Linked DNA regions of Homo sapiens: all the other regions are linked to region 1. The links come from fine-mapping of genetic effects on gene expression. A gene starts in region 1. Each other region holds a variant in brackets. All regions are shown on one strand. Distances are between the middles of the regions.

Region 1 (5,102 bases):
TCTGCAGCTTATCAACAGTGTGCTTTTTCAGAACCTTACACATACAAAATTAATGGTAACTTTATAGATTTTACATCAGAGATAAACTCTTCAATATATGGCGATTCCGCCTATGGACTCACGGGAGTGTGAAAGTATACCAGAAATACACTCAGAAAAAGCTATGATCGGCCAGGCGTGGTGGCTCACGCCTGTAATCCCAGTACTTTGGTAGGCCGAGGCGGGCGGATCACCTGAGGTTGGAAGTTCGAGACTAGCCTGACCAAAATGGAGAAACCCCGTGTCTACTAAAATTACAAAAGTAGCCGGGCATGGTGGCGCATGCCTGGATTCCCAGCTACTCGGGAGGCTGAGGCAGGAGAATTGCTTGAACCTGGGAGGTGGAGGCTGCGGTGGGCCGAGATCGTGCTATTGCACTCCAGCCTGGGAAACAAGAGCGAAACTCCATCTCAAAAAAAAAGAAAAGAAAAAGCCATGATCATGCTGGCAGATGGTATGTATAATAAGGTTTACGCCAGCCTGACCAACATGGAGAAACCCTGTCTCTACTAAAAATACAAAATTAGCCAGGGATGGTGGTGTGTGCCTGTAATCCCAGCTACTCGGGAGGCTGAGGCAGGAGAATCGCTTGAACTGGGAGGTGGAGGTTGCGGTGAGCCGAGATCGTGCCATTGCACTCCAGCCTGGGCAACAAGAGCAAAACTCTGTCTCAAAAAAAAAAAAAAAAAATTTTACAGCCGGGGGCGGTGGCTCATGCCTGTAAATCTCAACACTTTGGGAGACCAAGGCGGGTGGATCACCTGAGGCCAGGAGTTCAAGACCAGCCTGGCTAGCATGGTGAAACTCTGTCTCTACCAAAAATACAAAAATTAGCCTGGCATGGTGGCACGCACCTATAGTCTGTTACTGGGGAGGCTGAGGCAGGAGAATTGCTTGAACCCGGGAGGCAGAGGTTGTGGTGAGCCGAGATTGCGCCATTGCACTCCAGCCTAGGCAACAAGAGCAAAACTCTTGTCTCAAAAAAAAGGTTTACAGCCGGGGCGGTGGCCCACGCCTGTAATCTCAACACTTTGGGAGGCCGAGGCAGGTGGATCACCTGAGGCCAGGAGTTCGAGACCAGCCTGGCCAGCATGGTGAAACTCCATCTCTACCAAAAATACAAAAATTAGCCGGGTGTGGTGGCATGCACCTGTAGTCCCACTTACTGGGGAGGCTGAGGCAGGAGAATCGCTTGAACCAAGGAGGTGGAGGTTGCAGGGAGCCGAGATGCCCCACTGCACTCCAGCCTGGGTGACAGAAGACTCTCTCTCAGAAAAAAAAAAAAAAAAGTTTACAAGGCTTATCATTACCAAATCGGCATGTTCCCTCAGAAGAAACAGAAATTCAGAAACAGAAACTATGCAAGTGGGAAACAAGGCGGAGGGGAGTAATTAGAGGTCAAAGACATCGGGAAGGAGTGTACGGATTAAGTCCTCCCTAGAGAAATGGTGACGAAGGATCTACAACCACATTTAAAATAAACTTTTTAATTTGAAATGGAGTATAACAGAGCAGAGCTTCAACCACAAGTCTCCTAACTATTGGCTTGGCACTCAGAATACCGTACCTTCCTTAATGACTCACTGACTGACTCTCATTGAAAAATGAGAATACTTGTGAGTACACTCCTTTTCAGAGGTGTATTCGGGATTTCAGGAGTCGGGGAGGCAAGTTGAAGAGCTTCCAACTTTATGCAACTTTCAGGAAAGAAGGCTGCGGACCGGTATTAGCAAATGGAAATCCGGGGGGCGGTCGTGGGCAGGAAGTATCGGCCACACAGGACCTAGTGAGGCCGAGGACCCTGCTCCCGACCTCGGTGGCAGCACTCCCCTCCCCGCCCGGCTCCCTGGCGTGCCGCTGCTCTTCGGAGGCTGGCAGCCTCGCCCTCAACCACCGCCCTCGGGAAAGTCCTCGACTGCCTATCAAAAAACATTTGGCCTGGGACGTCCGCTGGCTGCACTATCCCTTACAGAATCAGCAAGGGTGAAAAGCCAGGAAAGAGATGCAACCCAAAGGAGTAAGGCAGTGCCGGGAGCGGCAGAAGCGGAGCGGGGGCGAGGGCAAGGTAGCCGCGGCCACGCTGGCTGCGGCATGGAGACACGGGAGGAACGGGACCCGCGGGCGGCACGGGAAAGGGCTGCGGCTCAGACCACTGCGGCGGGACGGGCGGATCAGCGGGGATCTAAGTCTCCTGAGGCAAGGGCGCCCCGACCGCAGCGACTCCTGACACACCCAGGCCGCAGGACGAAGCGCTACCGCCTGGGGCTGCCAGCTCCCGCCTCCCGCCCGCAGAGCCCGGGCCCCACGTAGAGGATCCGGCGCCGCCGACACTCGCACACTCACCGCGCGCGCGCCACCCTTGCGCGGCAGCCCGCCGCCCTCGGCGCGACCTCCGCCCCACCCCGCGCGCCGCGGCGCCTGGGCTACGTCACGGGCGCGTGCGCTCTCCGCGCGCCGTCAGCGGCGCGGGTGGGGCATTGCCAGCTCGGCGTCCCGGTTCCCTTGGAGACAGAGCTGGCCAGGGCGGCCGCGGCTGGGCAACTACGACAGCGGAGCCCCTGGGGAAGCCAAGATGCCGTCGAAGGGAAAGGACAAAAAGAAAGGCAAGAGCAAAGGCAAAGACACGAAGTAAGGAGAAGCCACCCGAGAGTCCCCTCTCCCTGGGCCTGCCTGGGATTTCGGGTCTGGGGCTGGCAACCTGGCGCCCCCCGCGCCGGCCCACTCGGACCCTCTCCCCGGCTCTCCCGGCTTGTGAGGATTACAGCTCCCATGTCCATAGTCTGGCAGATCTCTACTATGTGTTCAGATTATCTTAAACGTGTAGAGGATGTATAAAGTAGTTCCTTGGGCCTTTTCAGAGATCTCTTTTGGTTCAAAGGGGACACCTAAAGTATTTTACCAAGTTGGATAATTATTGAGGTTTTCCCAAACTGATCAGAGCCACTGAGGTGGGTAATGTTCTAGCACTAACCCCTTACAGGCCTGGAGTTGCTGCTAGATTGCTACTAGCCCTATTGGGGGACCCCGGTGGTTTCTGGACACGTTGGAGTCATACGTGGTGTCCAGCAACAACACCATATATGGGAACACAGAGTTGGCACCAAACTTGAGATGTTTGTAAAGTAACTTAAGAGAGTAATTCATGCTCAATACAGAAAGTTTGGGAAACATGGGAAGTACCAAAAGAAAAAACAAAAATCACCTGTAGTCTCATTATCCAAAAATAAACACTACTATATTTTGGAGTATTCTTTTTTAATAAAACGATAGCCCAATGTACATACTTATATGTGGCTTTTTTCTTCCCATTTGTTAATGTAAGTATTCTTTTATGGTATTTTTTTTTTGTTTTTACATAACTGCACAGTTAGTCTAGCCCTTAAAGTGCCAAGGGCTTATCACATTCCTAGAACTCACTAACATATGTTTTCAGATTTTGACCATGCTTCTACAGTACACATTTGAACAATGAGGAACACTAAGGGTAAGAGACCTTATTCCTTGGATTTTCCATGACCCATTGTTTGAGAAACCTGGCTTTGTTTCTACAGTGAGTATCAGTGGTCCTATTAGAGTGTCTAATTTCTTGCATCAAGTACTTTTTTTTTTTTCTTGACACCAAGTTTTGCTCTTGTTGCCCAAGCCGGAGTGCAATGGCACGATCTCAGCTCACTGCAACCTCTGCCTTCTGGGTTCAACCAATTCTCCTGCCTCAGCCTCCCGAGTAGCTGTGATTACAGGCACCCGTCACCACGCCCAGCTAATTTTTTTATTTTTAGTGGAGACAGGGTTTCACCATGTTGGCCAGGCTGGTCTCGAACTCCTGACTTCAGGTGATCCACCCGCCTCGGCCTCCCAAAGTGCTGGGATGACAGCCGTGAGCCACCATGCCCTGTCGCATCAAGTACTTCGAGCCACTCAGACCTGATACCTGGATGGTCGTAGTGAGACAGTGTATCACTAGTGCCTAAATCATGCCAGAAAGGGACATCAACAGCTATAACAGGCTGAGGGGTTGGGAATGGAGCTGGCCTTAATTTGAAGAGAACAAAAGGTGAAAGTGGGACTTTGGTTCTCTCCACTGCAAACCCATTACCTCTGTGGAAGAGGACTGAGAACCAGAGGTAGGAAAGTGGATGTGGAGGGTGGCAGTATAGAAAGGTCCACATGTACATATGTGTGAAAATATTTAGAATTCAAATACAGGTGAAATATTCTTAAATATGTACATATTTATATATCATGGTACCTACCATATATAAGGGGGAGTGTTTTGTTAATGCTTATACAATAAATATTTAGAAAAATCTCTTCCTTTACCACTTTAATCTTTGAATCCATCCTTTTTCCTCTCCACCTCTATATAAATGATTATGGTTTCTCAGGCATCCTTAAAGCCCGGTGGGTGGGGCATCGTGGCTCATGCCCAGCACTTTGGGAGGCTGAGCAGGGGAAGATCACTTGAGCCCAGGAGTTCAAGACCAGCCTGAACAACATAGGAAGACCCTGTCTCTACAAAAATTTTTATTAAAAATTAGTTGGGCATGCTAACTCATGCCTGTAGTCACAGTTACTTAGGAGGCTGAGGTGGAGGATCGTTTGGGCCTGGGAGGTTGAGGCTGCAGTGAGCTGTGATGGTGCTACTGCACTACAGCCTGGATGACAGAGCAAGATCTTGTTTCAAAAAAAAAAAAAAAGTCCGGTGAACTGTGGCACCAGCTGATAAACTATTTAACGTATTTGCCCTAGTGACTTGACTTTTTGTCCAAGACCTAGCCCAAAACAAAACAAAACAAAAACACCATCCTGGCTAACACGGTGAAACCCCGTCTCTACTGAAAATACAAAAAATTAGCCGGGCCTGGTGGCGGGCTCCTGTAGTCCCAGCTACTCGGGAGGCTGAGGCAGGAGAATGGCATGAACCTGGGAGGCGGAGCTTGCAGTGAGCCGAGATCACGCCACTGCTCTTCAGCCTGGGTGAAAGAGTGAGACTCCGTCCCTCCCCCAGAAAAAAAAAAAACACACTCAAAAGTGGAGGGTAAAGTGGGTGGGAGATCACAGTT
Region 2 (5,102 bases), 200 kb after region 1:
CACCCCGAGGGGATCGCGCTCGCGCCGCGCCACTCGCGCGGCCACCGCTAGAGGGAGCCGGGAGCGTCTCCGAAGTCTCCCGCTTGCGGCTTCGCTCAGGCGCTGCCTTTCACCCGCCTCGCAGGGGCTGCGAGGCTCCGACAAGACTGGTCCCTTCTTGTCATTAGGCCCTAGGCCCGCAGCCCTCCGCGGCCCCGACCTCTAGGAGGTGCCCAGCACCAACAGGCCGACCCTATGCTCCCTACCCAGCCCTCCGCTATGAAAACCCTAACGCTGCTCTGCTACTGCCCCCATTTTACCAATTAGGACACAGAGAGGCTGACAGATGTACCTAGGGTCACACAGCGAATGCGTGGCAGAGCCGGAAACCCAGGGGGCCTGGCTCCGAACCCCCATGCCTCAGAGGATCTCAAGCACCTTCTTGTATCTTTCTGTTCAAGGGGAAACCGAGGCACAGAGCAAGTCTAGAGCATACTGTGTGGGTGGCCCAGTCTGCCAAGGACCGACAGGAGGCTAAAGCTAGGCGGCCAGCCCCTAGGCAGATGACCACAGCAGAAAAGCCTGTGGGGAGAAGAGGTGCCAGCCTGCCCCAAGGTGGGGGTGGAGGGGGCTGTTGGTGCCTCCCAGGATGGGTGACAGCTGCAGCCTTGGGTGGGAGGCCAGAGGCCCCACACGATAATAACTTTCACTCACTGCCCAAGAGCTAATCCCATTACTCTGCATGGACCCTCTGGGACCACCTCCCTAACCCCCCTTAATCCCCTGTCTCCCTCTGGGAATGGTCCAAGGGCCTCCCTGCCAGCCCATGCCAGCCCCAGGCACAGGCAGACCTTGCCCCTCAAGCTCTGTCAGACCACCTGTGCCCATGAATGCCCATCGTGCCTGATTCTTGGGGCCCCAAAGGGACAGCCAAGAAGGGTGGAGGTCCAACCTCTCTCACCCACCTTCCCTGCCATCCCTGACCCTGCCTGCCAGTCCCCAAGGCACCTTCCCAAAATAGCCTCCGGCTGGGATCCAGGTTTTCTGAGCCTCGTGTTCCTTTCTAAGCAGGCTTCTGGGGCTTGTTATCGTTTTTGTTGAAGGAATTGGCAGGAGAGAGCTTGGGTCCACAGTATATTCATCTGTAAAATGGACGCAATCGCCCCCAATTTCTATAGTCGTTCCGAGGATACAATGAGACACTATGAGACACGGAGGACACAATGAGACACAAGCCTCCGGAGTGTTATTATCAGTGGTACAGAGCTGTCTTCAGATATGCAAAGGAAGTGGATTTCTTTTGTGTGTTACCAGAAGGAAGCTCCATGGCCAGAAGGCAGATGTTAGAGAGGAAGATTCTGAAAGATACACACTGTCCTATAAGGGTGATAAGAGCCACCATGTACTTGTCTTGGTCTCTTCCTTAGGTGCCAGGCACTTAAGCTTCACAGCACTCTATGAGGTAGATACTGTCATTACCTGCGTTTTGCAGACGTGGGAACTAAGGTTAGGAAACGGCACACAGTGGTGGAGTTGGAATCAAAAACAGCTCTGACTCCAGAATTTTCTGGGGCATTCTGCCTCTCAGGATCTGCTTCTAAAAGGGGGAGCTGATGTCTGAGAGCCACTCCGCCCCCAAAGTAGTGAGCTTCCCATTTGCCAAAAGTGTTCAAGGTGATGCTGAGGGGCCACACCAGGAACCACCGGTCAGGAGCCCTGAGGTCCCATGGCAGCCCCCAATCCTCCCAGCATCCCCAGGCGCGGGTTTCCAGGAGGAGCCAGGCCACTGCCCCCTCCCCAGCCTGGACACAGAGGGGGCTCCGTTTGGCGCCCTGGGCCTCCCTCTCCCCCACCTTCTGCTGCTCCTCATTTACATAAATTATCTCTCTCCAATTATCCATCCAGCTGTCCCAACGGTGATCTGTGAATGAATTAAAAATGGAATATAATTTAATAATGGCTGATTAGAAGGAGATTAGTTGTTATATAAAAATGAAAAGCCAAGAGCCAGCTAGTTGCCCTTAATCTGAGCCAATACCATCGTTATTCCGGAAAGGCCCCCTGGCCACCATCAGGCAAGGCAGACACGGGGACAAAGACTGGGGGAGTGCCAGGTGGGGCTAGACCACCCCAGAGAGAAGATAGGGCACTGGGAGGCTGGAATTTGCAGCATCTCTGAGCTGTGGGGCGTGGGCATCTCCTGTGGCTTCCTTCAAAACAGGTTTGGGTGGCTTCTGGGGTCCCTTTTTGCTCTAAATTCTAGTCATCCT[T/C]GAATCAAACCACTGGGCTTTCCCAAGGCAGCCAATGACTTACACCAGACCCTGCTAGGCATAGGATCTGGGGTTCAGGAGTTTCGTTCCTGCTCAGGCCCCGCCTCTAAGAACACATAGCAGTAGGGAACACAGACTTCCCCTGAGGGGGTCTACCTGTCTAGGACAGGTGGTCAGAGAGGGTCTCAAGCTTGGTTGGTCCAGACGGTCCACGGAGGATGGACTGGCTGAGACAAAGAAGGGTGAGTGTGCCCAGTGGGACCTCTGGGCCATCTGAACCTCAGGTTAATGACTAGATCTAGTGAAGGGGACTAGTGCCTCTCCTCCAGGAAGTCTTCCCTGATCTCCTGGGCTTTGGGGTGTCCCCAGTGTTTCTACGATGCCCTGTGTTTTCTCCATCAGTGCACTGAGCACTGCCGATGGGGTGTTCAGGCCCCCGTTTGTGAGCTCCATGGCTTCTTCATGTCTGTATCACCAGTGTTGGGCACACAGTGGTTGCTCTACCACATCATTGAACAAATAAAGACACCACCTCCAAAAAGCCTCTGTGATTGCCCTAGTGTAGGTTATGCGCTCCTTTCTTTGCTCCCCAAACACACTGTGATTATGCCTTTAAAAATAAGGCAAGTCATTGCTGTGGAGAATATAGAGAAGGACAAAATTTTAGGTAAAGGTGGATAGATGGAGACAGAACAAAGTGGTTAAGAGGAGCAGTTTGGAGTCAGACTGCCTGCGTATGCATCCCAGGTCCACCTCTTATTGCTGTATGACCTGGGTGGGGCATGTTACTAATTTCTCTGTGCCTCAGTTTCCTCATCTATACAATGGGTGTATATAATAATAGTACCTACTCCATAGGATTTTGTGAGAATTAAATGGAAGCACTTGTGGCTCTTATAATGCTTGTCACACCGAGAGCCTCTCATCTCTGTTGATGGTGCTGGCTGGACAGTGGGCCTGCGCAAAGCCATCCCAACATCCCTGGCTGCTACTTTTACACTGCAGGGCCCACAGGGACACAACACTGTGGCGGGACCAGAATGTTTCACCAACCTCGGGCCTTCCTGAAGAGGCTCACAGCTCATGACATGCCCATGAGAGGGGTCTGAGCCCCGGGGCTCAGGTCTGGGCAGCGAGGCCTGTGTGACTGACATAAGAGGATGTCTGCTAGGCCTGAGCTTGCAGAAAAGGAATGAAAGGGCCGGGTGGCCAGAGGAGTTGGGCATGCAGACCAGGAAGGGAAGGCTGAAGAGCTCTCTGCAGCCGCTGACTCAGGCCTCAGGGGCCATCATGGAGCAGACAGCCAAGGAAATATTGTCCACAGTACCAGAGGCTGGGAATGAACAGGGTGGGCACCAGAGGAGGCTGATTCTCTCAAAATGAGAGGCAGTACAGATTGTGCACAGCAAGTGTTTGTTGATTGGCTAACTGAGCTGCACCGGATTTTTCTAAACTTTCTTAGTCAAGAAAATCTTGATTTCTTATGTTTGTAGAAGGGCCTGGGAATCCGCACATTTGACAAGAGCCCCCGGTGAGTCTCAAGAACAGGAGGTTTTGACCCCAAACTCCATCTGTCCCTCAGTCACTGCTGCAGTGCCCTCTGGCAGTGGGGGCTGACTGGTGACCCCCACCTTGCCCACTACCCTCTGACACTCACTCCCATCTCCACAGCCTCAGCTTCAGTCACTCCCAGGACAATCTCCCTGGTGAAGCCTGAGCACATCGGTCCATATTGCAGCCGGGGGAGGCCTCCCAGACCAGCCCAGGCTGTGGGATAATTTGATATTCAAATCCTGGCAAAGACCTGCTTCAAATTGCTGCAAATTAAGCTGATTTTGCCCCTCTGAATGAGGGATTTGCTCCTGTGGATCAACCCTCTTCCCAGGACTTGATGAGGTCAGGATTAGAGACGGGGAGAAAAAGCCTGAGGCCGGAGGCCGGAGAGCTGGAGAGCTGAGGGGCGGGGGGAAGCCGAGACCCTGGAGTTAGTGAAGGTTCCCAGGGTCTCAAAAGGCAGCTCTACCCAGTGATAGCAGAGCCTCTGAGGCCCAAATGGGTCAGCCCCACTCCTCCATCCCCCCAGGAGAGCACAGCTCTGTACTGTTCCCAAAGCAGTTTGTGGACCTCATCCAATCTTTCCAAGCACCTGTGACCCAGGGCGGAACCGATCACCCCCATTTTACTGATGAAAGGGGAGATGAGGCTTTATTGGCAAAGACAATCTGGACTCAACCACTGCCACCGACTTGCTACGTGACCTTGAGCAAGTGACCTCTCTCTGAGCCTCCTTGTAAGGATGACTGGCGATGCATACACAGTGCCAGGCACATAGCAAGCCCTCCATAGCATGGGCCAAGTTCCTAGCCAAAGCCCTGAAGCTAGAAAATAGCTGAATGGAGAACGTGGGGCTCTCTGGACCTCAGGAAGAGTCAGTCCCCTGCCTTCACCTGGAGGTCTGTGCCTTCTCCCAACTGTACCCCTCCTGATAGGACCTCCCCCATCCCTGGCAGAACCTCATTTCCATCTGTTTTCTCAGGGCCTGTACTGTATATTGCAGCAATTTCAAATGGCACCATTAAAGATTTTATGCTGGAGACGTTAAAATTAAAAAGATCTATGTGCAAAGAGTCACAACGAATTTAATCAACTTGATTTAATAGAAAACAGCAAATGGAATTTATGATGCTCCAAAAGACAAGGGAATTTTTTTTTCAACAAAAAATAATAAAAAGCACTTTGTGGAAAACAGAAAGTGGAGTGGGGTGGGGGTGGGGGCTCCCCATCTGAGAGTTGATCAGAACTTAATCCGCCGTGAACAACCCCAGTCGGGGCTGTTTGCCCACTAATCCCAGC
Region 3 (5,102 bases), 920 kb after region 1:
GATAACTGTAATGGCTGCGGGTTGGAATAGCTTGGGGTTGGCTGAGTCTCTCTCTCTCTCTCTTTTTCCACATCTCTATACGGCCAGCTTGAGCTTCCTTCCAACATGGTGACCTCAGGGTAGTTGGACATCTTACATGATAGCATAGGGTTCCAACAGACCAAGGCAGAAGCTGCCAGTCCTCTTGAAAGCTAGACTTGAAACAAGTATAGGGTCTCTTCTGCTATAGTCTACTGATCAACGCAGACCCAGGCCAATTCAGATTCAAACAGAGGGAAGACACTTCACCTCTTAAGAGGAGGAATGTAAAATAATTCAAGAGCATCTCTAATATGAGAGAACGCATTTTGGCAGCAAGACATTTTCTTATTAATGTATTTGTTTATATGGGTAACTTGCTTATTGAGCAAGTTTTTTTCCCCCTTCCATCATTGCTTCTAGATGAACTATGTTGGTTCTCCTTTTTCTGTCCCGTAACAGTATCTTGGGCAGATCTTCTAGTATTCCTGTTGCTTTAGCTTATTAAAGGCCCAGCCCCATCTAGGCTGGTCCATCTAACCAAGACTAACCATTTCCCTTCCCCAGGCAGGGTCTGGATTTGGCCCAGGGGAGTGGGGAGGGGTGTAGTTTGCCCCTGTACCCCCACTCCTCTCTCTCTCTCCTCCTCCTTTTCTCTCCCCTTTTCTCTTCTTTCACACAGATGGGGAGGGAGAGCTTTCAGGAAAGTCCCTGTCAGCTGTGGCCATTTCTTCTCTGGCTATGAATGTTCCCGGCATGATGGCGTTCAGATGCTAACTCTCTTGTGGGTTCACCACAGGGCCACCTCGCACCACTGTTCCCTGATGTGAGAGGTCCCTTCAGCTCTATATCTCTCACCCCACCACTCAGCCACTGCCCCAACCTCCACCCAACAGCCTACCGACTGTGGGTCTGCACAGCTGCAGGCCTCCCTCTTGGGAGGACATGGACAAGACAGCTCAAGGACATGCACCTTCCGCCATGTCCACCTGACCCATGGGCAACGACTGCTGGGTGCCCCAAGGAGTCCCTGCCCTGTCTGTCTCTGCCTCTTCAATCCTGCCCTCCCCCAACCTCCCTGTCCAGATGGCGCGTGGGCTGATCTCAACAGCAAATCCAGATCCAGGGAGAGGAGGGGAGGGAGTCAGCACCCCAGGACTCCAGTGACCCATCTCCCTCTCTCTTCCTTCCCCTGTCCTGGTCTTCTGCTTATGGAGACTGAGGAAGGGGGTGCTGGGAGATTTGGGGGCATAGCAGAATTGCTTTAACCATCTCTTAATAAATCCTGTAGGCAAATGGGCCTAGTCTCAAATGGTTCCTTTGTTTTAGAATATGGGGTACTCAAGGCCCTTTTTCCTTAGCTCTGAGTCCGGCCACCCATTCGAGCAGCAGAAAAGGCCCACCCAGTACCCTCTGGCACTAGAGCATGGGCTGTCTCTCCCCTCGCATGTGTGGTCCACGAGAGCAGGGTCCTGTGTGTCTGTCCCCACTGGATCCTGGATGCCTAGTCAGTGTCTAGGACACAGAGGGTGCTCCACAAATAGATGACAAGCAAATCCCTCTAGGACCTAAATGGCTGGAACGGCTGCCAATATAGTCAAGTAGGCCAGCTGGCTCCTTCCTACCCATTCCTGCTGCGAGGCTCCTGCCCACGGATGTGGAGTTTTGCTTCTGGCTTCCAGGAGCTTTTCTGGTTTCTGTCTTGCTCTCTACAGGGGTCACTGGCCTGGGTCGGGAGGCTGCCCGCCATGTGGGTGACCTTATGGAGCCAAAAGCCTTGAAGATGCTACCGGGCCTGGGTTGGGGTCCTCAGGGCTGAGCTAGAGGCCTGGCCAGTGGGAGGGGATGGGTGCTCTTCCCAGTTCACAGTGGGTCAAAGGCAACAGCTCAGAACAGCTGCAGCTAAAGAGAGGAGAGGCAGGAGAGGAAGTGCATTTCTTTGGCAAAGTATGTCTCCTGGGGCTGACTCACACCCGTCTATGACCACAGCCAGAAGCACATTCTGACCAGCGTGTCCTGCAGAGTCCCCAGGCCTCGGTGAACAGGGCACCAAGGACAGCTGCCTCAGCAGGGCCACCCCACTCCGCTGGACATCCCCAGCTCCCCTCAAAGCCCCAGGCAGGCCCCTGTGCCCCTGGGTCCCTGTGGGTTTCTCCTCAGCAGCCTCAAATGAGGAAGTGAGGCTGAGGAGAGAATGGGGGAACTTCTCTTCCCCCAATACATATAGCAGCATATAACATCAAAGACACAGA[CACACAG/C]ACACACACACACACACACACACACACACACACACACACACACACCCCTTGCAGGTCAGAAGCAGAGTGGAGTTTGATAGTAAGTGGTTTGGATTAAAAAAAAAATAGGCCTGGCATGGTGGCTCATGCCTGTCATCCCAGCACTTTGGGAGGCTGAGGCGGGTGGATCACTTGAGGTCAGGAGTTCAAGACCAGCTTGGTCAACATGGTGAAACCCTGTCTCTACTAAAAATACAAAAATTAGCCGGGCATGGTGGCGCACGCCTGTAATCCCAGCTACTCAGAAGGCTGAGGCAGGAGAATCGCTTGAACCTGGGAGGTGGAGGTTGCAGTGAGCCGAGATTGTGGCACTGCACTCCAGCCTGGGCGACAGAAGGAGACTCCGTCTCAAAAAAAAAACCATTAAAAAATAATAAGAAGATTTATTTTTTTCCTGCCAAAGCACTGAGGAGGAAGACGGAAGGAACTGGGGGGTAAAAGGCAGAGAAATCCGGGCAGCATCTGCTGGTCCTTGCGTCTGTTCAGCAGCCCGAGCAGGCTATACGTGCTGCCGTTCAGCGCCCTGAGACCCAGCCCAGGATGTCTATCAGGAGGGCCGGAGGAGTTCGGGAGTCCTTGCGGCACTGGGCTGGGGCAGCCCTAAGCCCTGGGAGAGGAGGAGATTGTGCTCTTGATGCTGTTAAAAAGTGGCTGGGACCAGCCTCTCCTCAACTTTGGAAACAAAACTACATCTTGGGAGCTCCTCGTTAGGGAAGGGGCGACCCCAGGGTGCTGTAGAAGCAGGTTGGGCGACCTCCGGGGCAGCCTTGAAGTGGCCTCCACAGGAACAGTCTCCAGTGACCACCCAGGGCCACCGAGACTTGAGCCTGGGCCCCAGTAGAAATGTGTCAAAGCCAGAAGAGCCATCTAGCCAGGCCCCTCAGGTCAGAGATGAAACGTGAAGGCAGAGGGAAGCCCAGTGCCACTCGGTGAGTTATAGACAAAGCCAGGCCTCTGACCCCCGCTTCAGTGCTCTTAACTCTCCATCAGCCATTTCACCTTCTTGGGCCTAAGTGTCCTCAGCTGTCAAAAGGAGGAAGGAAGGAGCAAGCTAACATGTTGTCGTGAGCTGTGACATGCCCTCTCGTCGACTGAGCGAGGCTTTTGAGATAAGGAAACTGAGGCTCGGAGAAGGTGCTGTGCTCTTCCTGTTACACCCCGATCCCTGGGTCTGTCTGGCTTCCGTTCCCGGCTGACGCTCACTGCCCCGGAAGACACACCCACTAGATCAGCGTTTCCACACTAGAATACTTTATTCAAGAGAATCTGGCTTGGCAGTCAGATGGCCCTGCAGGGACAGCTTGTGGGGGTGCCAGGGCCCTTGGGGAACCTGCTCCCCTGCCACTGCCTTCAGCTGGGACGCACAGGCTCCTCCCCTGGTGACCTCATCCCCACTGGCTGAGCTGTTTCTCATCCAGGCAGCTCTTTCTCCAGCCCGGGGCCCACTCTGTATGTGTCTCTTAGGGGGGGCAGGGTGGTGGCACCTTGGCCGGAAAGAACAATGTCCCAGTACAAGCAAATGGCAAAGTGTGAGGGGAGATCACGGGGGACAAGGAGTGGCAAAAGCCCCCAGGCAACCACTGTTCTCCAGAGCTGAATGTTCTGATCTTCAGAAGAAGAGGGGGAAGTGGCTGGATCCCCTCCGCCCGCTGCCGGCCTTCCCACCAGCCAGGCCGTGGCGGCCCCAGCAGGATCCGCATCCCTACTTTGGACAGGAGCTCCGAAAGCAAGGGCTGCTTGTCTGTGCAGAGCCTGAGGCCCAAGAACAGGTAGCAGGGCCCCCTTCTTTCCTTCTGCAGGCCCCTGGAGACCTCCAGGGCCTCTGGGGCCTAGCTTGCCCCTCACGAGGCCACGTGTCTTGCTTCTTTCAAAGCGGAAGCTCCCAGGGGTCTGTGGCTGGCTTCTCTCTTTCTCTCACGTTGTTGAAGGCACTGAATTCCTGAGGGTCCTGTCCTTCCCTGCCCCTCGTCTTGAAGGGAGCGAGGCATTCAGCAGGGAAACAGTTGGCTAATAAATAGAGGGCAGGTACCAGCAGGAGTCACTGAAGAGTGTGACGGTAATAAATACACGAGCCGGGTGCGGGGTCTCTCTCCTCCAAGGGGTGGGTTACCTCCGGGGAACAGCATCGCCGCACCTGCCAGAGACCAAGCACAGACGGGGCGGGTATCAGCACACTGTGGAGGGTGCGGTCTCCTCCTATGGAGGAGGGGGCAGGCCCAGAGGAGGAGCTTGGGCAGGGAGCATGGGGAGGGCGCAGTGCTCCTGGGTCCCTGCTTGCTTCAAGCTGAGGAGAAGCTGGGAGCTACCCTTCACCAAACACTTACCCATGTGCCCAGCCCTGTGCCAAGCACTGTCTTCTTAACCCTCAACAACCTTCCATGAGGAAGGCACCCTGATTATTCTTGTGAAGATTAGGAAACTGAGGCCCAGAGAGGTGAAGAAGCTTGCCTGTGGTCACACGGCCAGTCGGTGACAGAGCCACATTTGAACCTAATCACACTCCATGCAATCATGCCTCTGATTACCCTAAGACAGCAGTCTCCAAACAGGGGAGTACCGCTAGACGCACGTGAGGCCTGAGTACTGACGGTTTTAAAGAAATCCATTTTCAGCCTCCAGGTCTACATTGCCTTAAAATTATTTTTGTGAGGCAGTGGCTGAGATCTGCTTCTCTGGCCACAACACATCTTGCTCATTCTAAATCCTCATAAAGTGCTTTGCTGCCAGGTAAAAGTATTCTGAGGACATGAAAAAAAGAACAATTTGAGATATTGATGTAGGTCTTGA
Region 4 (5,102 bases), 190 kb before region 1:
TTGGAATCTCAGCTTCAGATTTGTGTTAGTAATAAAACAACTTAGGTTTGGTGCCTCCTAAAGCAGACCCTGAGACAAGAACTTGGGTGACAATAGTTTACTTGGGAAGATATCCAAGGAAGACGGGGAGGGAGAGAGGAGAGTGATACAGGAAGGACGGAAAGCCAATGAAAGATACATTACTGAGCTGGGTTGTCACTGTGGACAATTGGCTCAATCTCCCTGCACACTTTTGAAGAACCATATAGAAACCACCCAAAATTGTCCTGCTGAAGTGTGAGAGGTTGGGACATTTATCCAGCAACCTTCATCTTCCATTGGCACTCTCCCACTCCCCTACTACCCAGCTCCCGCCCCTTTCTTCTGTGGCTGTATCTGCAAGTTGGACTGAGCAAGCTTCCAAGCTGAGGAGAAAATTCTGAAGCAGAAAAGCTGAGAGACTCCACTGGTGCTTGAGACGTGAAGCCATCAGCATGCATAGGAGCTGTTAGCCACAGCTGCATCACAAGCCACAGGCCTCAGTTCCAGTTGATCTACAGCAATCCTGTGGGCATGCACACCTTTGCTGTTGTCTGACCTACTTCTTGCCCTGCACCTTCCTATTCATGTATTGACTACACCTGACCTCTCTATCCTGACACAGTGAGACCCACTCAAACCGCTTCTTGGGCCTGATCTAGGTGAGCAGCCCCTCTGCCTCTCTGGCCCAGCCTCTCCACTTACCCGCTCTGGCAGGCCTTCAGCAGCCTGCCCTTGGAAATTTTGCACTTTTCCTTTTGCCAGTAGATATGTGGCTCTCATTTCTTTCCTTCTTTTCCTCTTCTCTCCCATTTACACTTTGATCTTGTCAGACTCTCCAATGGCATTATCAAGCCCTACTCAGATCATTGGCTTACCCTGACACAGAGAAAGTGCTCACACTCAGCATCAAATAACACAAATAAGAAGGATGCCCAATACTATTTGAGCACTTACTAAACGGAAAGCGCTGTGTGAAATGTGATTCAGTCATTATTTTATTTTCACAACAGCCTGATGAGGTCAGTACTCTCATTATGTCGATTTCTCAGAAGAGGAACTGCGGCTGGGAGAACGTGACTCATCTAGCTGATGGAGCTGAGGTTCAAGTGCAGGTATCTGGCCTTGAGGACTTACTTTTGACCACTCTATCACCAGTTAGCTTAGCCATTAACTACCAACTGATCCTCGGAGACAGGACCTCATTTCTTCTCCTTCTTCTTTTTTTTTTTTTTTTTTTTTTGAGACGAAGTTTAGCTCTTATTGCCCAGGCTGGAGTGCAATGGTGTGATCTTGGCTCACTGTAACCTCTGCCTCCCAGGTTCAAGCGATTCTCCTGCCTCAGCCTCTCAAGTAGCTGGGATTACAGGCACGCACCACCCGCCCAGCTAATTTTGTATATTTAGTAGAGATGGGGTATCACCATGTTGGTCAGGCTGGTCTCGAACTCCTGACCTCAGATGATATACCCACCTCAGCCTCCCAAAGTGCTGGGATTACAGGCATGAGCCACTGTGCCCAGCGGGACTTCGTTTCTTGTATGTGGGTTTTGACCTTTCAAGTAGAGTATAGCACCTTGGCTGGTTTGTTGTTGTTGTCTATATGGATTTTTTCTTTTTCATTTTCTTGGTTCATGGTATTACAACCATGTGATGCTTTTTTTAGGGCTAACTTAATGGATTTCTCTCCACCAATCTCTTGATACTAAAATTCTTTTTTTTTCTTTTTTTTTTTTTAAGACGGAGTCTTGCTCTGTCGCCCAGGCTGGAGTGCAGTGGCCAATCTCGGCTCACCGCAAGCTCCGCCTCCTGGGATCACGCCATTCTCCTGCCTCAGCCTCCCAAGTAGCTGGGACTACAGGCACCCGCCACCACACTAAGCTAATTTTTTTGTATTTTTAGTAGAGACGGAGTTTCACTGTGTTAGCCAGGATGGTCTCAATCTCCTGACCTTGTGATCCGCCCGCTTCGGCCTCCCAAAGTGCCGAGATTATAGGCGTGAGCCACCGCGCCCGGCATGATACTAAAATTCTACAATTAGAAATTAATTCCTTTGTCCCCACCTCACAGTTATATGGGAGAGACTACAT[G/A]TTAATCCTTCTCAGCCATTTATACCTTAACATGAGTGAACTTCTAATCCTTTCCTGAGAGGTGGTTTTGGAAGAGGAGACAGGGGAAAAGCGTGAATGCACTAAGCCCTGATTAAAGGGAAGCCCCCTGATGCCATCACCTTACAAAAGCTCTTGCACAAGGGTATCAGGATTTAGGTGCAAGAATGTTCTTGGCAGCATTGTTCATAATAGGCTCAAAACAGAAACAATCCTATCTATTTTTTTTTTTTTTTTTTTTTTGAGACGGAGTCTCGCTCTGTCACCAGGCTGGAGTGCAGTGGCGCAATCTCAGCTCACTGCAACCTCCGCCTCCCGGGTTCAAGTGATTCTCCTGCCTCAGCCCCCGCAGTAGCTGGGACTACAGGCGCCTGCCACCAATCCCAGCACTTTGGGAGGCTGAGGTGGGTGGACCACGAGGTCATGAGTTCAAGACCAGCCTGGCCCAGAGGGTGAAACCCTGTCTCTACTAAAAATACAAAAAAAAAAAATGAGCTGGGCATGGTGGCAGGTGCCTGTAATCCCAGCTACTTGGGAGGCTGAGGCAGAGAATTGCTTGAACTCGGGAGGCGGAGGTTGCAGTGAGCCAAGATCGTGCCACTGCACTCCAGCCTGGGTGACAGAGAGAGACTACGTCTCAAAAAAAGTAGAAAAAGAATGAAAGAGATGCATCGTAGTGGATTCATACAATACAGCAATGAAAATGAGTGAGCTACGGTGACAACCAGTGAGTTAGTTGTTTGAATCCCACAAACATAACATTGAGGGAAAGAAGCATGATACAGAAGAATGTGCACAGTGGGAATCCACACATATAAAATTCAAATACAGGTGGTAGATTATAAAGAACAAGAAGGAATTAACATCATGAAAGTTAGTATAATAGTAATTCTGATAGGAGGGAGATGGTTGTGATCACTCAGGGGATGCACAGGGAACTTCTTGGGTGCTGATTATTACTATTTATTTTATTTTATTTTATTTTATTTTTGAGACAGAGTCTTGCTCTGTTACCCAGGCTTGCGTGCAATGGCACAATCACAAGTCATTGTAGCCTCAACCTTCTGGGCTCAAGTGATCCTCTCACCTTAGCCCCCCAAGTAGCTAGGACTATAGGCACGTGCCACCATGCCCAGCTAATTTTAAAATTTTTCATAGAGACGGGACATCACTTTGTTGCCCAGTCTTGAACTTCTGGGCTCAAGCAGTCCTCTGGCCTCAGCTTCCCATTGTGCTGGGATTACAGGTATAAGCCACCATGTTTGGCCATTATTATTTCTTGACTTGAGTGTTGGTTACACAGGGGGCTGCTTTGTAATTATTTTTTAAACTGTCCAAAGATATTCTATTCGTTTTTCTTTTTTCTCTTTTTTTTTGAGACAGAGTCTCGCTCTGTCACCCAGGCTTGAGTGCAGTAGCTCCATCTCAGCTCACGCAACCTCTGTCTCCAGGGTTCAAGCAATTCTCCTGCCTCAGCCTCCCGAGTAGCTGGGACTACAGGTGTGCACCACCATGCCTGGCTAACTTTTTTGTATTTTTAGTAGAGACAGGGTTTCACCATGTTGGCCAGGCTGGTCTCAAACTCCTGACCTCAGGTGATCCACCCAGCTAGGCCTCCCAAAGTGCTCAAAGTTTTCTATGCATTTTTCTATATGTATTTTTCTATATGTATGTTGTATTTTACTATTTTGAAAAGCAAAAATAAAGGAAGAAAGAAGAGGAGGGAAGGCAAAAGGTAAAAAGAAAGAAAGTAAGGAAGAAAAGGGAGAAAGAAGGAGGGAGAGAAGAAAGGAAGGAAGGAAAGGAATGCCAGCTCCTCAATCCAGACCTCATTTGTTTGTATAGCTAATCCAGATAAGGTTCTGGGAGACCTGGAAGAGAAGTGGTCAGGTTTTTGGGACAAATGGCACATAGCATCTGTGAATAATCAACTGTGCTAGATACTGCCAAATAGTTTTCCAAGTGACTGAATCCAATGTATTCCCTCCCCAGCCATGTATGAGTTCCCATTGTTACACATCCTCTTCATCATTTGATATCATCAGGCATAAAGACATCTTATTGTTGTTTTAAGTTGCATTTTCCTGCTAATTAATGAAGTTGAGCGTCTTTTAAATATATTTTTCCTCTTTTGTGAAGTGTCTATTTTTTTCTAGTGGGTTGCTTTTTTTTTTCATATTGATTCATTGGAGTATGCATTTTGGATATTAGGGCTTTGCTGGTTGAAAGTGTCTTTTTGATGGCTTGTTGCCTGTGTTTTTATAAGTAGGAGGGGTGGAGGCAGCAGGGGCCCACCACCTCTGAATTCCTTTGCCCACTGTTTGGGTGCCTCGGGGAATTTGCTCAGCCTTCATGGGCAGCGGTTGCCCTTTCTGACGCAACTAGGAATTCCTGGCACCACGACCAGGGGCCCTGCTCTCCCCTCAAGAGGCAAGCTGCCCAGGAAGCCAGGGAGGCCCCTGTGAGAATGACAGTGTGTGTGCTGTGCACACAGAGCCTGTTTTGTGTTTTCTTCCCCTCTACTCTCTTCCATTAGCAAAGAAAATGGAGTTTGGGCGCTGTGTCAACCACGTAAACTTTTACTTATACATCAGTGCAGAAAAGAACAAAATAGGAAAGGACTGCATGGTCGGCCAATTTCTGACGCCCTTTTTACTAGCCTGGATTTTAAGTCTAGAACACAATAGTAGAGGCTACCTAAGAACATTAAGGCAGCTGTGCCAGGGCAGAGAGAGGAGTTCCCATCTTGCCAGGGGCAGTCACATCACCTGCATCAGCATGTGAAGCAAACATAAAGAATGTCACTAATGGGCTTGGAGGTCATTAGCAACCCTGCCTAAAATACCTATCTGAATAAGGGACTGGCTCCCAGCAGGAAGTGAGGGGTAACTGAGTTGTTTCTAATAGTCCGTTCCTATTATCCTATGCTAATTCTCCCTGAGAGGAGGCTTGGCTGGTAAGGAGGGAGTGGTGGATC
Region 5 (5,102 bases), 68 kb after region 1:
TCTCTTTGGGGGCGTGGCTTATGGAACCTCGTTTTCCCGCCGACGGTTGGCCACGTCACGTGACATGGGTTGGAAGATGGCGTCTCCCACAGACGGTAAGAGCCGGCTTAGAGATCTTTGCCTGCAGCCTCCTTCTTTGCTCTACTGGGAACATCCACTCTGTCTCTGCCCCTCGAACATACATTTCTTTCTTGGGCTCTTCTCCTTTCCCTTTTATTTTTTTTCTTGAGATCCATCGCCGTCTTCAGCTCACCGGTTCTTCACAGCAGCTCCGGAGGTGCCCAGTTTCCCCGCTCTGTACCAGGCGTGTGGAGGAGGGCACTAGGGAGGGACTCATTCTGGGTAAAAGGACAGGGGGGTCGCCCTGTGCCTTCCTTATCTCTATTTGGGCGAGGCTGAGGGTCGAGGAGGAGATGTTTCTGGAGGACGTGGCTTACTGTAGTTTTTTCCTTGGGGTACCCATTGAAAGGATCAGTTCTCTTCTGATTGAGCGCACGGATGGAATGATTCTCACAAACCCTCGCAGGGCTGCTGGCTGACCTCATCTCGATACTGAACCGCAAGAGAAACATGATCTCTCTCCTGTCTCCTCAGTTTGGGACCATTGCCGTGGCAGCAAGAGAAGCGGGGGACGTTCTCGGCCCCTCGCCCTGAGAGTCGCGAGGAGAATCAGTATTGAGCTTTTAAGTGTCGTCTTGCACAGGTCGCAACCTGTCTTCCATCTGCTTTACGTGTTGTTTCTTAAGGCTGAGTGAATTAACGATTTCTGTTTATATATTGTGTAAAATGCAAGTCATTTCAAGTAACAATTAAGTTGTTTTGGTATACTCCCATGCTTTTCCTCTTGGTTCTGCTTTAGAGAGTTAGGGTCTTGCAGTCATTTTTAAACTCATTTTTAGTTCTACCATCCTCATCCCAACTATATATCGATTTTATTGATATATAGGTTTCCTTCCCTTAGACAAAAACATTTTATATTTGGAAGGAATCTTGGAAGTTCATTGCAGGAATGAAGAAATTGAAGCCAAGGTGAGCTATATTAAGTACCTGCTACATGAAAGGCATAATGCTAGGTGCTTTGGGAGACCAAAAGATGACTCAAACATATAAACATTTTTTTTTTTCAGTTTCAGTTCTCTTTTTAGATGTCACCTCCCAAAGAGTCTTTCTTAGAACACAGTATCTGGAGTTGCCCTTTCCCACCATTATTCATTATCTCAGTATCTTCCTTGTCAGCATAGTTACTCTGTTAACTTTGCCCCTTTTGCGCTAGATTGTAAATTCCAAGTTTGTCTTGTTCATAGTTGGATCCAGGTTTAGCACAGTGCCTGACGAACAGTAGGTCTTTAATTAACATTTATTGAAAGATTGATTAGATATATGCAGAAATAATATATTACTTGATCTTAAGTTTTAAGTTTAACCGAGTCTTAAATTTTGTGAGCGCAGGTACATACTGTATTAGAAATTATGGCTGGGCGTGGTGGTTCACACTTCTAATCCCAGCACTTTGGGAGGCTGAGGCAGGCAGATCGCCTGAGCTCAGGAATTGAAGACCAGCCTAGACAACATGGTGAAACCCCATCTCTACAAAAAAATACAAAAATTATCTGGGTGTGATGCCACAAACCTGTAGTCCCAGCTACTTGGGGGGGCTGAGGCAAGAGAATCTCTTGAGCCCAGGGGGTGGAGGCGGCAGTGAACCATGTTCATGCCACTGCACTCCAGTCTGTGTGACAAAGCGAGACCCCGTCTCAGAAAAAAAAGAAGGAAAAAAAAAGAAATTATGGATGTTTGGAGTCAAAAGAGATTCTCCTGCCTGGGTGCGCTCTTGCAAAAATGTCCTTCTCTTGCCAGAAAGAAGGGCATTTAAAAAGTCAGGCAAGGGAATAGGGAGTTATTGTTAATGGGTACCAAATTTCAGTTTGGGAAGGTGAAAGAATTCTGGAAATGAATGTGATGATTGCACAATTAATGTACTTAATACCACTGAAATGTATACTTAAAAGTTATTAAAATGGTAAAATTTATGTATATTTCACCACAGTTGAAAAAAAAAGCCAAGTAATACAAGTAGAAGTAATTGTTATTAAACTTTTTAGTTTATTTTTAAATTGTTTTTACAAACTTTGGGGATTTTAGAGATGTGTTCCTTGAGTTTGATTTTTTTCCCCTGTCATCTCTCAATTTAGTTTCCTTTCTTTGGCCAGGAAGAGTATTAAAAACATTAAATTTGGCTTGGCGTGGTGGCTCACGCCTGTAATCCCAGCACTTTGGGAGGGCGAGATGGGTGGATCACGAGGTCAGGAGATCGAGACCATCCTGGCTAACACAGTGAAACCCTGTCTCTACTAAAAAATACAAAAAATTAGCCAGGCGTGGTGGTGGGTGCCTGTAGTCCCAGCTACTCAGGAGGCTGAGGCAGGAGAATGGCGTGAACCCGGGAGGCAGAGCTTGCAGTGAGCCGAGATCACGCCACTGCACTCCAGCCTGGGACAGAGCGAGACTCCATTG[CA/C]AAAAAAAAAAAAAAAAAAAAAATTAAATTTTTTTCCTTTTCTAGCCATCTCTATGGTCACTTTATTTGCACTCTTGATTTTTAAGTTTTCATTCTCATCTCTTACAAAGTTTCACTCCTCTCCACCTAATGTTTTCTTTTTAATCTGAAAAAATCAAGTCAAGCACTTTGAACTTAAATTCAGCTTCTAAATAAGTATCTCATTCCAAAATATTCCACGGCCTAGCTCTTTCACTTCTATTTTTAGTGTTCCACCTGTCACTGTCTTTAAAATTTAATTCAGATAATATTTATTTTAATATGTTTGTCATTTACTCTTTTGTCTTTTTCGTGATAAATTTGCTGGAGCGTCTTTGAAAAGGAGAAAACTGAAATTCAAATACAGCCATCTAATTACTTAATTTATGAGAGTAAGACTCACAGCAGAGTCTGAGTTCTATCCCAGACTGTGGTATCATAAGGTCACCCATGTAGGTTATTAGATTGTACCCCCAATAATTTTTTTTTAACTTTCTTTTAGAGACAGGGTCTCTCTCACTCTATTGCCCATGCTGAAATGCAGTGATATGATTATAGCTCACTGCACCCTCAAAGGCTCAAGCGATTCTCCCATCTCAGCCTCCTAAGTAGCTGGTACTATAGGCTCACACCACCATGCCCAGCTAATTTATTATTATTATTATTTATTTTGTTTTGAGACGGAGTCTCACTCTGTCACCCAGGCTGGAGTGCTGTGGCATGATCTCGGGTCACTGCAACCTCCGCCTCCTGGGTTCAAGTAATTCTCATGCATCAGCCTCTCCAGTAGCTGGGATAACAGGCACACGCCACCACACCTGGCTAATTTTTGTATTTTGAGTAGAGACGGGGTTTCACCATGTTGCCCAGGCTAGTCTTGAACTCCTGACCTCAGGTGATGCACTCACCTCGGCCTCCCAAAGTGCTAGGATTACAGGCGTGAGCCACCATGCCCCCACCTTATTATTTTTTGTAGAGATGGAGTCTCACTATGTTGCCCAGGATGGTCTCAAACTCCTGGGCTCAAGCAATCTTCCTGCCTCGGCTTCCCAAAGCACTGGGATTCCAGACATGAGCCACTGTACCTGGCCCAATAACTTTACTTTTGTTATGGTTGAACATTCCTCAGAAATCGGTAACAAAGAGAAGCTAATTTTTGGATGCTTTAATTAAGGCAATGTATTAGTTGAGTTCTTTACAATTAAAATGCCATTGGAAATTCCTTTGGAATATTTGGCAAAACAAATTCAGTTTAGAGAAAAGTACATTTTGTACGTATGTATATTTTCTGGGGAGTGAGTTCATTTTATTTCCCAGATTTCCAGAGATGTGGTTACCCAGAAAATGTTAAGAACTGCTGTTTATAGCATTAAATGAACTAGTTATGCAACTGGTTAGCATACTGAGCATACAATAAAAACTCAACAAATGTTAATATTGAGTACTACTGTGTGCAAGGGAAGAGTGGAAGAGAAATGATGTCAAAGAATTAGGTAGAGGCTGAGTAAGATTTTATAGAGTGTGGTAGATACACATTCACAGATTTAGCTGGGAGGAACTTTAAGCTGGAGAGAGACACGAACTGATTGACGTTTAAAAAAATCAATTCTGGCCTCTTTATGGAGAATAGATTCCGGGGGTGTGAAGGGGAAAGGGTAAGAATGGGAGCAGAGAGATCTGTTAAGAGGCTGTTGAAGTAGTCCAAGAAAGAAGTGATGGTTCCTTGGGTTATTTGATTTCAGGGTGTATTCTGAAGGTAGAAACGACTAGATTTACTCATGGATTGGTTATGGAAGGGTGAAGGAAAAGAATGCATGAAGGATGACATCTGGGTTTTTGATCTGAGAATTGGAATTTATGGTAGTGTTATTTCTTGAGATGGGAGAAGATTGGGGGAATATGGTTTTGAAGATAATTAGGTTTAAAGTTTAAGTGGGGATTTTTTTTTTTTTTTTGAGACAGGATGTGGCTCTATCACCCAGGCTGGAGTGCAGTGGTGTGACCTTAGCTAACTGCAGCTGCCACCTCTGGGCTCAAGCCATCCTTCCACCTCAGCCTCCCAAGTAGCTGGGACTACAGGCTGACACCACCACACCTGGCTAATTTTTTTGCTTTTTGTAGAGATGGGTTTTCACTATGTTGGCCAGGCTGGTCTCAAACTCGTGAGCTCAAGCAATCCACCCACCTCGGCCTCCCAAAACTGCTGGGATTACAGGCGTGCACCACTGCATCTGGCCTTAAGCAGTTTTTTTATATGTAAATAGAGAGGGATTCAAATAACCACTTGGACATAAACCTTTGTAGTTCTTTAGAAAGGTTGGGAATGGAAATATAAATATGGAGTCATTGGCATACAGATGAAGATAAAAGTCCTCATGTTGAAATAGGGGAGTTCCCTAACCGCAGGACATACGACAGGGGTGTGGCTTGTCTGTGTGCACTCAATCCTCTTATGGGAGAGGGAGCACGCAGATGGGCAGGTGTAGGAGTCAGGGCGAGCACTTTTGGGCTCCAGCCCCACGGTAGCATCTAGGGGTGGGTGCCTGTGACTCCCAAAGCCCAAGTGGGC

Which allele goes with the higher level. Positions count from the first base shown, and alleles are read on the strand shown. Sizes are in standard deviations (SD) of each study's normalised expression. Not every link is listed here.
In carriers of allele T in region 2, the expression in pancreas of the gene that starts at base 2,421 in region 1 tends to be lower than with C alone (small effect, 0.37 SD a copy in GTEx).
For the expression in uterus of the gene that starts at base 2,421 in region 1, A is the high allele of the variant in region 4 and G is the other (moderate effect, 0.44 SD a copy in GTEx).
For the expression in memory regulatory T cells of the gene that starts at base 2,421 in region 1, C is the low allele of the variant in region 5 and CA is the other (large effect, 1.0 SD a copy in Schmiedel 2018).

The links.
Region 2: its variant is fine-mapped to the expression of ENTPD5 in pancreas (GTEx, PIP 0.98).
Region 3: its variant is fine-mapped to the expression of ENTPD5 in whole blood (INTERVAL, PIP above 0.99).
Region 4: its variant is fine-mapped to the expression of ENTPD5 in uterus (GTEx, PIP 0.96).
Region 5: its variant is fine-mapped to the expression of ENTPD5 in memory regulatory T cells (Schmiedel 2018, PIP 0.95). The same link has a PIP of 0.9 or more in naive CD8 T cells.

Annotation. Positions count from the first base shown.
Region 1 is chr14:74,016,868-74,021,969 of GRCh38, forward strand. ENTPD5 (ectonucleoside triphosphate diphosphohydrolase 5 (inactive)) reads right to left here and starts at 2,421. Exons shown (of 16, transcript NM_001249.5): 1 at 2,383-2,421. BBOF1 (basal body orientation factor 1) reads left to right here and starts at 2,482. Exons shown (of 12, transcript NM_025057.3): 1 at 2,482-2,667. The coding sequence starts at 2,612. RefSeq lists silencers at 1,779-2,073, 1,989-2,058, 2,099-2,238, 2,249-2,318, 2,349-2,598 and enhancers at 4,879-5,102, 4,939-5,102.
Region 2 is chr14:74,217,777-74,222,878 of GRCh38, forward strand. No RefSeq gene overlaps it. Among named protein-coding and RNA genes, the nearest start is that of VSX2, 19 kb to the right of the region's middle. The variant T/C (reference allele first, on the strand shown) is at 2,250.
Region 3 is chr14:74,938,285-74,943,386 of GRCh38, forward strand. PGF (placental growth factor) reads right to left here. Exons shown (of 7, transcript NM_002632.6): 7 at 3,550-4,449. The coding sequence ends at 4,422. It overlaps LOC107984690 (a long non-coding RNA gene), which reads left to right and starts at 4,445. Exons shown (of 3, transcript XR_001750826.3): 1 at 4,445-5,102. The variant CACACAG/C (reference allele first, on the strand shown) is at 2,271.
Region 4 is chr14:73,829,173-73,834,274 of GRCh38, forward strand. LINC02274 (long intergenic non-protein coding RNA 2274) reads right to left here and starts at 963. Exons shown (of 2, transcript NR_135238.1): 1 at 724-963. The variant G/A (reference allele first, on the strand shown) is at 2,108.
Region 5 is chr14:74,084,899-74,090,000 of GRCh38, forward strand. It overlaps LIN52 (lin-52 DREAM MuvB core complex component), which reads left to right and starts at 58. Exons shown (of 6, transcript NM_001024674.3): 1 at 58-95. The coding sequence starts at 77. RefSeq lists enhancers at 1-146, 1,087-1,176. The variant CA/C (reference allele first, on the strand shown) is at 2,515.